Regions from separate parts of the Homo sapiens genome. Here regions 2 and 3 are each reported to be linked to region 1. Evidence: microRNA targets listed by miRTarBase, many of them from high-throughput screens and not tested one by one. Region 1 holds a microRNA gene; each other region holds the end of a gene's coding sequence.

What was found. Region 1 holds the annotated microRNA hsa-miR-377-3p (AUCACACAAAGGCAACUUUUGU, at 2,172-2,193, shown strand). A microRNA usually pairs through its seed, bases 2 to 8, with sites in the 3' UTR of a target mRNA and lowers its output. Matches are read on the target gene's strand: a 7mer-m8 pairs with bases 2 to 8, a 7mer-A1 pairs with bases 2 to 7 and ends in A, and an 8mer does both.
Region 2: the mRNA of MGAT4C is a reported target of hsa-miR-377-3p. Seed matches in the 3' UTR shown: 8mer at 2,015-2,022.
Region 3: the mRNA of LRRC32 is a reported target of hsa-miR-377-3p. Seed matches in the 3' UTR shown: 7mer-A1 at 2,330-2,336.

Annotation. Positions count from the first base shown.
Region 1 is chr14:101,059,923-101,063,272 of GRCh38, forward strand. It overlaps MIR377 (microRNA 377), which reads left to right and starts at 2,128; the gene lies at 2,128-2,196. MIR496 (microRNA 496) reads left to right here and starts at 651; the gene lies at 651-752.
Region 2 is chr12:85,976,451-85,979,800 of GRCh38, reverse strand. It overlaps MGAT4C (MGAT4 family member C), which reads left to right. Exons shown (of 5, transcript NM_001351288.2): 5 at 1-3,350. The coding sequence ends at 512. Among named protein-coding and RNA genes, the nearest start is that of NTS, 100 kb to the right of the region's middle.
Region 3 is chr11:76,656,857-76,659,856 of GRCh38, forward strand. LRRC32 (leucine rich repeat containing 32) reads right to left here. Exons shown (of 3, transcript NM_001128922.2): 3 at 668-3,000. The coding sequence ends at 2,748. It overlaps LRRC32-AS1 (LRRC32 antisense RNA 1), which reads left to right and starts at 140. Exons shown (of 3, transcript NR_199061.1): 1 at 140-300; 2 at 2,752-2,838.

The DNA.
Region 1 (3,350 bases):
ATAGCCGACCCAGCAGTGTGCCCTGGCCCTAACCCTGTGTGTGCCCCGTCCTTGGGGAGGTTTCTAGAGATGGTGCCACCTTTGGGGAAGAAGTGGAGCTTTTCCTATCAGAGCTACTCTGTGGTACTGGTGGAGAGGTCTTCCATGATGCATTCGATTTATTTTTTGACCAATCCTACATAGTGGACTCTTTTGAAAGCATTAAATCTAGCCTTAAAGCACCCTCGGGTGGTGCCGAGTTTAGGAACTAGAACTGGTGTCTGAATGCCTGAACGCACGGCGAAGCTGACAGTGTGCACACTCTTCTTGGTGGGTCGTGCACCTGCAGGCGTCCTGCTTGCTTACCATGGCAGTTTCCTCGAAAGAGGCGGCAGTTCCCTCATCGGCTCACTGCATGTTTGACAAGACACCGTCTTGCTGTCTTCCCTGCTGCCCTCTCTTCATGTATCACAGATGGTGCTCTGCAGACCTCTCTGCTGTGGCACTTCCCTCCCTGAATGGCTTCCTGCAAGAGGTGCTAATTGCAAGTAAGGGATGGAGTGCGGCCCGGACCGCAGAGCTTATTTCGTGGGTGGTGTGTTGCCACCTTCCTGACTCTCAGTATCCCGTCCGTCCTCAGGCCTGCTGCTGGGACGCGCTGGAAGCGAGCACCCAAGTCAGGTACTCGAATGGAGGTTGTCCATGGTGTGTTCATTTTATTTATGATGAGTATTACATGGCCAATCTCCTTTCGGTACTCAATTCTTCTTGGGAAACGTCACGAGGGGAAAGCCCAGCCGGCACCTGCGCAGGGTAAGGAAGTGGATCACCTCCGCATGACAGGTGCTCTCTGTGTGACTTACATCACTTGGCTCATATCCCGGCCATCATTAGGAGGAATTCCCCGAAATGATGCTGACGTTTTAGTTGACATGGTGGTCTTCTAGTCGCATCCTTGAAGACTCGTCAGTGAATAAACCACATTTAGTCAACCTTTTTAGGTGTGAAATCATCTTGGCTGTGTGGCACACTTTAGGGAAAGGAACTCCTGGCTGAATGGAAGACATCCACATTACGCCCTCAAATACCTTATCTTCTGGGTGACCTCTGGGAAGCAAGGGGTGAAGGGGGTTTCCTCAGCAGTGAGAATTAATGTTGTTTAAAGACACATTTCCATGGCACGACTCGGTTATTCCTACTGCAAGACGAGAATTGTTAATAGCATTTATTACTACCTTATGTTGCCAGCTGTGTGCCCTTGGAAAATCCCTTCACCTATCAGCTCTCTGGGCCTCAGTCTCTTCCTCTGTAAAGCAGGGTTAACAGCGGAGTGGAAACGTGCTCTTTGTGAAGTGTCTAGACAGCGTCTGGCACGTGGCTGTAGGATAAGCATTGTTTCTGAGGATGGTCATTATATGAATGTTATGTCATCTGCACTCATTGTCCTCTCGCCACTAGAATGGAAGCTCCCTGAGGGCAGAGTCCTTGTCTGTTTTGCCTGGTGCTGTGTCGCCAGATGTGCACAGTAGGTGTGATGCTGAATGAATGAATAGGCAGCGTGACCTGTTTTCTTGGTTGAACTCTCTTTGAGGCCTCCTGGAATGGAGTGCATGGAGTACAGTCACCTGAGCCTGTGCTGTCCCTGTGACGCAGCCCCACCCACCCTCTGAGGATGCTGCGCTGGACGAGGAGTCGCCAGCCTTCAGGTCGGGTCCTCCCTCAAACCCCTGTAGGCTGGACTGAACACGGTCACATGGTTCATTGGCAGCCCCCTTCTCTGTGTGAAATCCTGCTTCAGAGACTTCCAGAGGAGATACCGGCTCTGGAGGTGGACCTTGGTGTTCCAGCCCCTCTAGGGTAGGTGACCAGGGGCTGACTCTAGCTCGGGCTGACCTGTGATGTGTGTGTGCATAGCCTCGCCCCCACTGCCTGCTCCAGGGCTACAGAAGCTGGTCCATGACCAACCATGTTCTGACCACTGCCTGGGGGGCTTCTCGGAGGTAGAGAGAGAGAGAGAGCAAGAGGGGAGAGAGCGAGCCAGCAAGCCAGCGAGCCTGCAGCTGGAGTCAGCAGGGAGGTCCCGCAGGCAATGCCGCCTTTGGTGAAGAGGCATCTCGGTGTGTTCTTGCCCGTGCTGATGTTTGACCCTTGAGCAGAGGTTGCCCTTGGTGAATTCGCTTTATTTATGTTGAATCACACAAAGGCAACTTTTGTTTGAGTATCAAATCCTGCTTGGGATGGCTTCCGGGACCCAGTGGCAAGCTCAGGGGCATCTACACCCCTCCCGTGAGCAAGAATGGACGGGGTAGACGTGGGTGGTCTGCCCTCTGCGGTCCTCTGCGGTGGATGAGAACAGATGTCGCTCAGAGAACACAAGCTTCATTCATGATGGGGGCGGGGCTCGCGGCCCGGGGAGGATGGCGTTGGTGTCGCGTCGGCTTTAGCTCTTACCCTGGACCCTGTCTCTTTACATCACCATTTTGGCTGTGTTGATCCCAAAGACATTTTGACTCCACCATTTTTTTTTCGGAAGGTATTTGACCTCGCGGATACACAAAGAGCTCACACTTGGCAGGGTCTGTGACGAGTCTGCAGCCCCAGACCCCCGTCTAGCTCACAAGCACTGTGCTTCTTTCTGCACCTTTCCTTGTCTCTATCTTTCTCTTTCTATCCCCCAACCAAACATTGTTCCCAATTTTCTCCTGGGTTATGAAACAAATAGAGGCTATCAGTATCTCATCCCATTTGTATTAAATAATACTGATAAAAATAATCAACACAAAATAAAACTAAAAACAGCTGAAACGGCACAGTGCTAAATGTGTTCAGTTGACTACAAATTGGCAGAGGAATCCAATTTTCTTGACAACATTTCAGCTGTGACATTTGACCTGGGGAAATAGCAAGCTGCCGACGTGGCAGCCATGGAAGGAAATTCACGGTGGCGGCGGTGATAAACAGTGATATTTGATGTAGACAAGAACACATTGAGGAATCAAATCTTCATGCAGATTTTTAAATGGAAAAAATTGATCCTAATGAAAATGATTTGGGGAAAATAACAAGGGAAATAAGAGAAATGAAAACAGCTCAACAGCGCGGTCAGGAAAGCTAAACAGGGAATTGGATTAGTATAATGGCATTGGCTCTGAAAAACACGTTTCTATGAATATCAGTGTTGGTACAATTCTTGTGAAGGTGGTTACATTTGTGCGTGTTTACAGTGGAGTTGGTGGGGTCAGTAGGAACCTAGGGTCAAAAAATGGGATACAGTCTCCCCCTTTATGCAGTTGATCTTTTCTTGCTGCCCCAAACCTTCCCGAGAGCTTCCCGGAAAGGTGTGCTGACTTCAGGCGTGACACACTGGTAAG
Region 2 (3,350 bases), not on the chromosome of region 1:
TTCAGCACATGGGCTATTATTCATCATACAAAGGGACGGAGAATAAGCTGAAGGATGATGATTTTGAAGAGGAGTCATTTGACATTCCTGATAACCCCCCTGCAAGTCTGTACACCAACATGAATGTGTTTGAAAATTATGAAGCAAGCAAGGCTTACAGTAGTGTTGATGAGTACTTTTGGGGGAAACCACCTTCAACAGGAGATGTTTTTGTGATTGTATTTGAAAATCCAATTATAATAAAAAAAATTAAAGTAAATACTGGAACAGAAGATCGGCAAAATGATATTTTGCATCATGGAGCCCTAGATGTTGGGGAAAACGTTATGCCTAGCAAACAAAGGAGACAATGTTCTACTTACTTAAGACTAGGAGAATTCAAAAATGGAAACTTTGAAATGTCAGGTGTAAATCAAAAAATTCCATTTGATATACATTGTATGAGGATATATGTCACCAAAACACAAAAGGAATGGCTAATTATTAGGAGTATTAGCATTTGGACTTCTTAGCCAATTAAATCAGTATGTTCAGTTTCTGAAGCAGTTCTTCCTGCTTCGTCTTTTGCTACCTTTGTCTTTTGGAGGGAAAGCAATGGATGGGATATGTTAAAAGAAACATTAATTACATTGGCAGTTTTCATTTATACATTGTTGACATAATTTTACTCTTAATACACACTTGTATTTATTTTAACGTCTGAAGTTGAATATCAGTCTATAGCTAATGCTACTTTCATTTATATTTTTAAATGTTCTTAGTTTTAAAATTTCAACTGATTGTCGAAAGGGTAATATGAAAGATTTTAAATGAAAAAAATTTGTTGGATGATGATTTTTGAAAAATAGTCACCAACTGTATATACTTCCTCAAGAACTGATAATTCATTATATCATCAGATAGCTTTTATTAAGCATCTGTGGGAATATACAGTTGGGTGGAATGATAATCTGGTTTATTTTTTCTGTAAACTTAAGTTTCCGTTGACTTCTGTACATCTACAATGAATACCTCCTCATAGAAGTGGTGTCTTTACATAATTTTTTGTGTAGGTGACACTATGGAAAAAGAAAAAAAAGACTTAAAAATATCTCTCCCCTGATTATTTATATGAAAGGGGATATTGTTCATTGTTTAAAAACATTTAATTGAGCACCTATTGTTGATAAATTTTCTGGGGGAAGCAGTCTTTTTCAAGTTTCCCTTTTGAAAAAAAAAAAGAAGAGTTAAGCTCAATATTTTCAGGTTACATTGAGTACCCACATTTAATAGAATAAATTAGGGAAGGCCTATAGTAGTTAGCTCATTCGTACAGACATTTTCAGTATATGCAGAAAATTTTTGGAAATTGATTTTATACATTTTGTATTAAAATCCATGTGATTGAAATTATTGTGATTTATCATATACCTTTTTGGAATTTAAATGGGTATATTATAAAGGAGAAAAGTAAGAACCATAGAAATTAGTTGACTTTTCTAGAATCAAAGATCTATTTCCTAGCAAGGCCAGAATGAGAGATCTGATATTCTGATAACCAGACAATGCTCTTTTTCTCGTATGATTTCTCCTGACAGATTTATGCTTTGTGTTCTATTTGCTACATGCCTGTCAGATAATAAGTTATACCATCTGGAAATAGGTGGTACAATTCCTGCATAAATAATATTATCCTAAATAATGTCCTAAATGATGCTTTTTTGGTATAAGCACCCAAATAGTAAGCAAACTTGACTAAACTTTTCCTAATAGGGATTGGAGAGTGTGTCTTTACAATGTGTCCGTTAAAGTAATTCAGGACACCTTAGTGTGTCCTAAAGACATTGGTTTTCAGAATGTCCTGAGCTTGTCTCTTCCTTTTTGTTTTTTAATGAACAGCAAAAACTAAGGGATTTATTATAAAGGGAAATGGAAGGTGCTTCATATATGTTTAAGAAACTCAAGTACGTGTTCATATAGATGACTCTGTGTGTGTGTGTGTGTGTGTGTGTGTGTGTGTGTGTGTGTGTGTGTGTGTGTGAAGGCTAGACTTTTGCTGGTAAGACAGAATGAGGAAATCTTCCTGCTCTTCCTTTTCATACTGAAACACAATCCTTAAGATTTACTGGTATGCTGTGGTGCAAACAACACTAGGATATTTTTATTTTATTCGTTCTCTGCAAATAAATGAGAAACTCAGATAAAAAATGGAAACTTTTTATTTCATTTATAAACAGCTGTTGTGTATTTTCTTTGTATTCAGCTACTAAAGTGTTAGAAGAAAAACGAACCTTTCATAAGAGGCTAAATATTAATATTTTGTGAGGCACCTAAATCTTACAGTCATAGGAAAATATGAACACTGCCACTAAATTATTATCTTTACCTTGATTTAGAGGATACTTGCCAGACACCTAAAAATGTTCTATTTTCTTTATTTTTCTTATCTTTTATTAACCGGCTAGTTGATAGTATTGTGTGTATATCTCAGAAGTTACAAATGGCATTATTTTCTTCACTGTCAATGATAAAAGGTACACAATTGTATGCCAAAGACATGTAATATCAAGAGCTAGGCAGACTCCCTGAAATGAGTTGTAACCCCTTACATATTCTTCTGGGAATGGCTTTCTAAAGATCAGCTATTGGTGTCTATCAATGTCTTAAAAATGTTTCAAGAAACATTGCTGAGGGTAGCAGTGAAGTTGGATGTTTGCTAGGAAATTATGAAAACAAATGTGACTCAGAGAGGTCATTTCACATTTTATCTTTATATCCTCTCTTTACTAAACCTGTGTTTGGATAAGTTGGTCAATCATCCAAGGATCCTCTATGTTTTCTTTACAGTTGACACTGGGTCAATTTTCTAAGGAAAACACCTTGACAAATAAAGCATCTTCATTAGAGGTCAGGAGGAAAAATAACTATTCTCTTTCAAAAGAAAATCTGAACAATTTTTTTAGCATGGCCCAATGTTCTATTTCCTATATTTAGAAACTTTGAATAAGGGTCTAGTAATCTTGTCTCAGAGGCATAGAAACAAAAGTACAGTTATTAGGTTTAACTATACTCAAACTATTTGCTATTTTTAAACATTTTTGCTGTAAGTTTATATATATATACATATATAATACATATATACATATATATAATATATATATACATATATATATAATTTTCTTTGTTAAAAATAACAATTGAAAAAGACTGGCATGAGACATGAATGGCTGAGTCATTTAATTGCCATACAAATAAAATGCTGACAGGTTTCAAGCAAAAAATACAGTATGCACCTTAAATAATGCCTCAGAATTGTATAATTTAAGCTCACTAAAAACCTTACTTAGTCTTAAAATTCTCCTTAGGGGAGC
Region 3 (3,000 bases), not on the chromosome of region 1:
CCTAGGGAGAGGAGGTCTGAAAAGCGTGCTGAGTTTGGCAAAGGATACCCTTGACGCTGTTAGCAAGGGCAGCATGGAGCTGGGAGGGGCTGAAGGCAGCTCCAGGCGGGTTGAGAACGGGAGGGGCGGGAAGGGAAGTGACTTTACCAAGAACCTGGCCTGTGAAGAGTGGGAGGACGAAGGGGAAAGTGGCTGAGGGGCTTCTCACTATTTTTAAGACGGACAAGACTTGAGTCCAGCTGAAGTCTGAGAGGAAGACGTAAACAGGGAGAGGCTGGAGGCAGAAGAGAGCATGACGGGGTAAGGGAGAGAGGACGGGGCTGGGGACCCCAAGGAGGAGGGGCAGTGCAGCCTCTGAGATAGGGCACAGAGGGCTGAGCACAGAGAAGGGGAGGGGGCCTGTAGCTGTAGCAGGAAGGAAACAAACGGAAGCCCTCAGCCTCTCAGCCCTGGGGTGGGGAGCACAGTCGCCTGTTGAGTGTGGGGCAAGAGGTGTAGCAGGGGCCATGCTAGTGGCTGCGGCTTCAAGGTCCAGGGTGGTGCTGGCCCAGAGTCTCAGTGTCCCCAGGGATTTGCCATGATGATTGAACGACCGTAATGGGATTGAGCGGCAGGGTTCTAGTGGACGCAATGAAGCGGATTGCAAAGAGGAAGCTGGCAGCCACACTGCTTCTCCAAAATTAGTTTTTAATACATTCAGGTAGGTTATACAAAGAGTTGGTCCCGAGGCCTGGGCTGAGGCCTGGGCCCTGGGAAGTGACAGCAGCCCTGTGTAGTGTTTTCAAAGATCAGGCGTGGGGACCCACACCTTGGCCTCCAGGCCTAAGGAGGAGTGTTACGTGCAGTAGCACCCGTGGGTGTGATCCCAACCAGGACTGGGTCTGCCTGGGTGCTCCACACACCACCAGGGCCTAGCCCTGGCTCTGCCCATTGACTCTCCCTTAACTTCCTCTGGGCCTTGGTGTTCTCCTCTGTAAAATGGGGTGGAGAGAGTGGCATTTTCACTTTCTCGCACATTACTGAGCCCACATCATGAGCCAGACTGTGGGCCAAGCACAGGTAAGATGATGAAGACAGCAAAACAAGGTCTTGAGTTGGTCCCAGCACGTCCATTCTTCCCAGACAGCTCATGACTCCATGGTATGAGGGATGGGGGTCATCTGGGTGAGGCTTTTTACCTGTTTTTGTAAGAGGGAAAAAAGATCCTTGCATGATGAGGCACAGAAAGGAAGTTTGGAGCCAGCATTATCTTGTGATGTGATAGCTGAGAGAGGACATCACTCTGGTCCAACCCCCAATCTCACCCCACAAATAAGGGCTCTTTTTTCCCCCAGAGGCTCTGTATAAGCTCTCCACAAGTTTCATTCTCTTCCTAAGCCTCAGTTTCCCCATCTGTGCAATGGGGAGGTTGGATTCCATAGTCTCAAACTCCAGGCTCTGCTCAATAGAGGAAAAGGGAATGAGAGAATGCAAGAGCACAGAGAGAACAGGAGAACCCACACCAGGGTGGAAAGGAAGGGAGGAGGGAAACAGGCAGAGAAGGAGGAGAGCGCCTGCAGCTGCCTGCCTGGGAGAGAGGAGAGAGCAGGTGTGCACAGCACAGGATGCTTCCAGACCCTGCTCGGGCTATGTGGGGCCACTTCCTGTCCACTTAACGGCCTGCAGCCCCTGCAGTGGTAAAGATCAGGCCCTGGAGACAGAAGGATGAAGGTTTGAATCTCACCTATGGCATTAGTTAGCTGGGGCCCTGGAAGGAGATTTTCAGAACTTCAGTTTCCTCTTTTATAAAACGGGGATAAAATATAGAGCTGTCACATAGGGGCAGACACAAGGCTTGGATTCAAATCCACATCTGCCAAGCTGGGTGCAAAACAGAACCAGATATCTAAGGTTTTAGCTCCTGGCTCAGCAGCCAAGGTGGGGCTGCGATGGAGAAGTGGGGCTGGGCAGGGACGGTGCTTAGAGCAGCACTGGGGTCAGGGTATGCAACATGAGAGTGCCAGGAAGGGAGAGGGCAAGTCCAGAGCAGGAGACGGAATGGTCCAGTGCTGGGCTGGACCCCTTAACCAGACCCTGCTGGAGCCGCCGTGGCCCACCTAACAACACCAGATCCGAGACACACTCGTACAGCTCCAATTCTCTCTTCTGGTCCTAAGCTTTTCATTTTCAGAGAGACTGAAAGTCATTCTCAGAAGACGTGACAAACAGTCTGCTTGGAAATGTCTCAGACAAATCCTCCTGGGCTTGGCCCTCCCTCACCCTGGCACAGCCGGGGCAGGACTCACCGCACCAAACCAGCGGGGCCTGCCGAGCTCTGGAGCCCTGGGCTTTCACACCTCAGGCCCTAAGCACACTGCGTGGCGGCCACGTGGCTCTGCAGCACTCTCTCCTACCAGACTGGGAGATTCTTGAGGGCGGGAATGTATCTCATTTCCCAGCATTCCCAGTGCCCAGAGCAGGGTGTGGCACAAAATACATGCTCAGTGAAGATTTGTTGATCTGACAGGTCAACATTATTCTCGGCTGTCCCTGAAACCGCCCAACTTCTGGCTTCCACAGCTGGACCCAAAGTGCAGCCCGGGAAGGGGGTCACCCACTGATGCAGCAGGCGGCAGAGAAAGGTGTCCTGGGCTGTAATTTGGAGACCAGAGTTCTGGGATCCCGGATCACTGTGTGACCTTGAGTCAGTCCTCACTCTTCTCTGTACCTCAGGCTCCCCCACTGACCTAGAGTGTCTCCCGGCTTCTTTAGGCTTTATACTGTTGGTTAAACTTCTGCCGGCGGACGCAGCAGCAGGCGGCCAGCGTGGTGAGGAGGATGGCAGAGACCAGTATGAAGGTGAGGATGATGATGAGGTTGATGTTCTTCAGTCCCCCCTTCTCACAGTCCTCGGGACGCACGTGGCTCAGGGACACCTCCTCCTGGGAGCTGAAGCGGCAGATCAGGTCCTGGGTGGCGTCCACGTCCACACGGCCCTGGTGCAGCTGGGCTGCCAGCCAG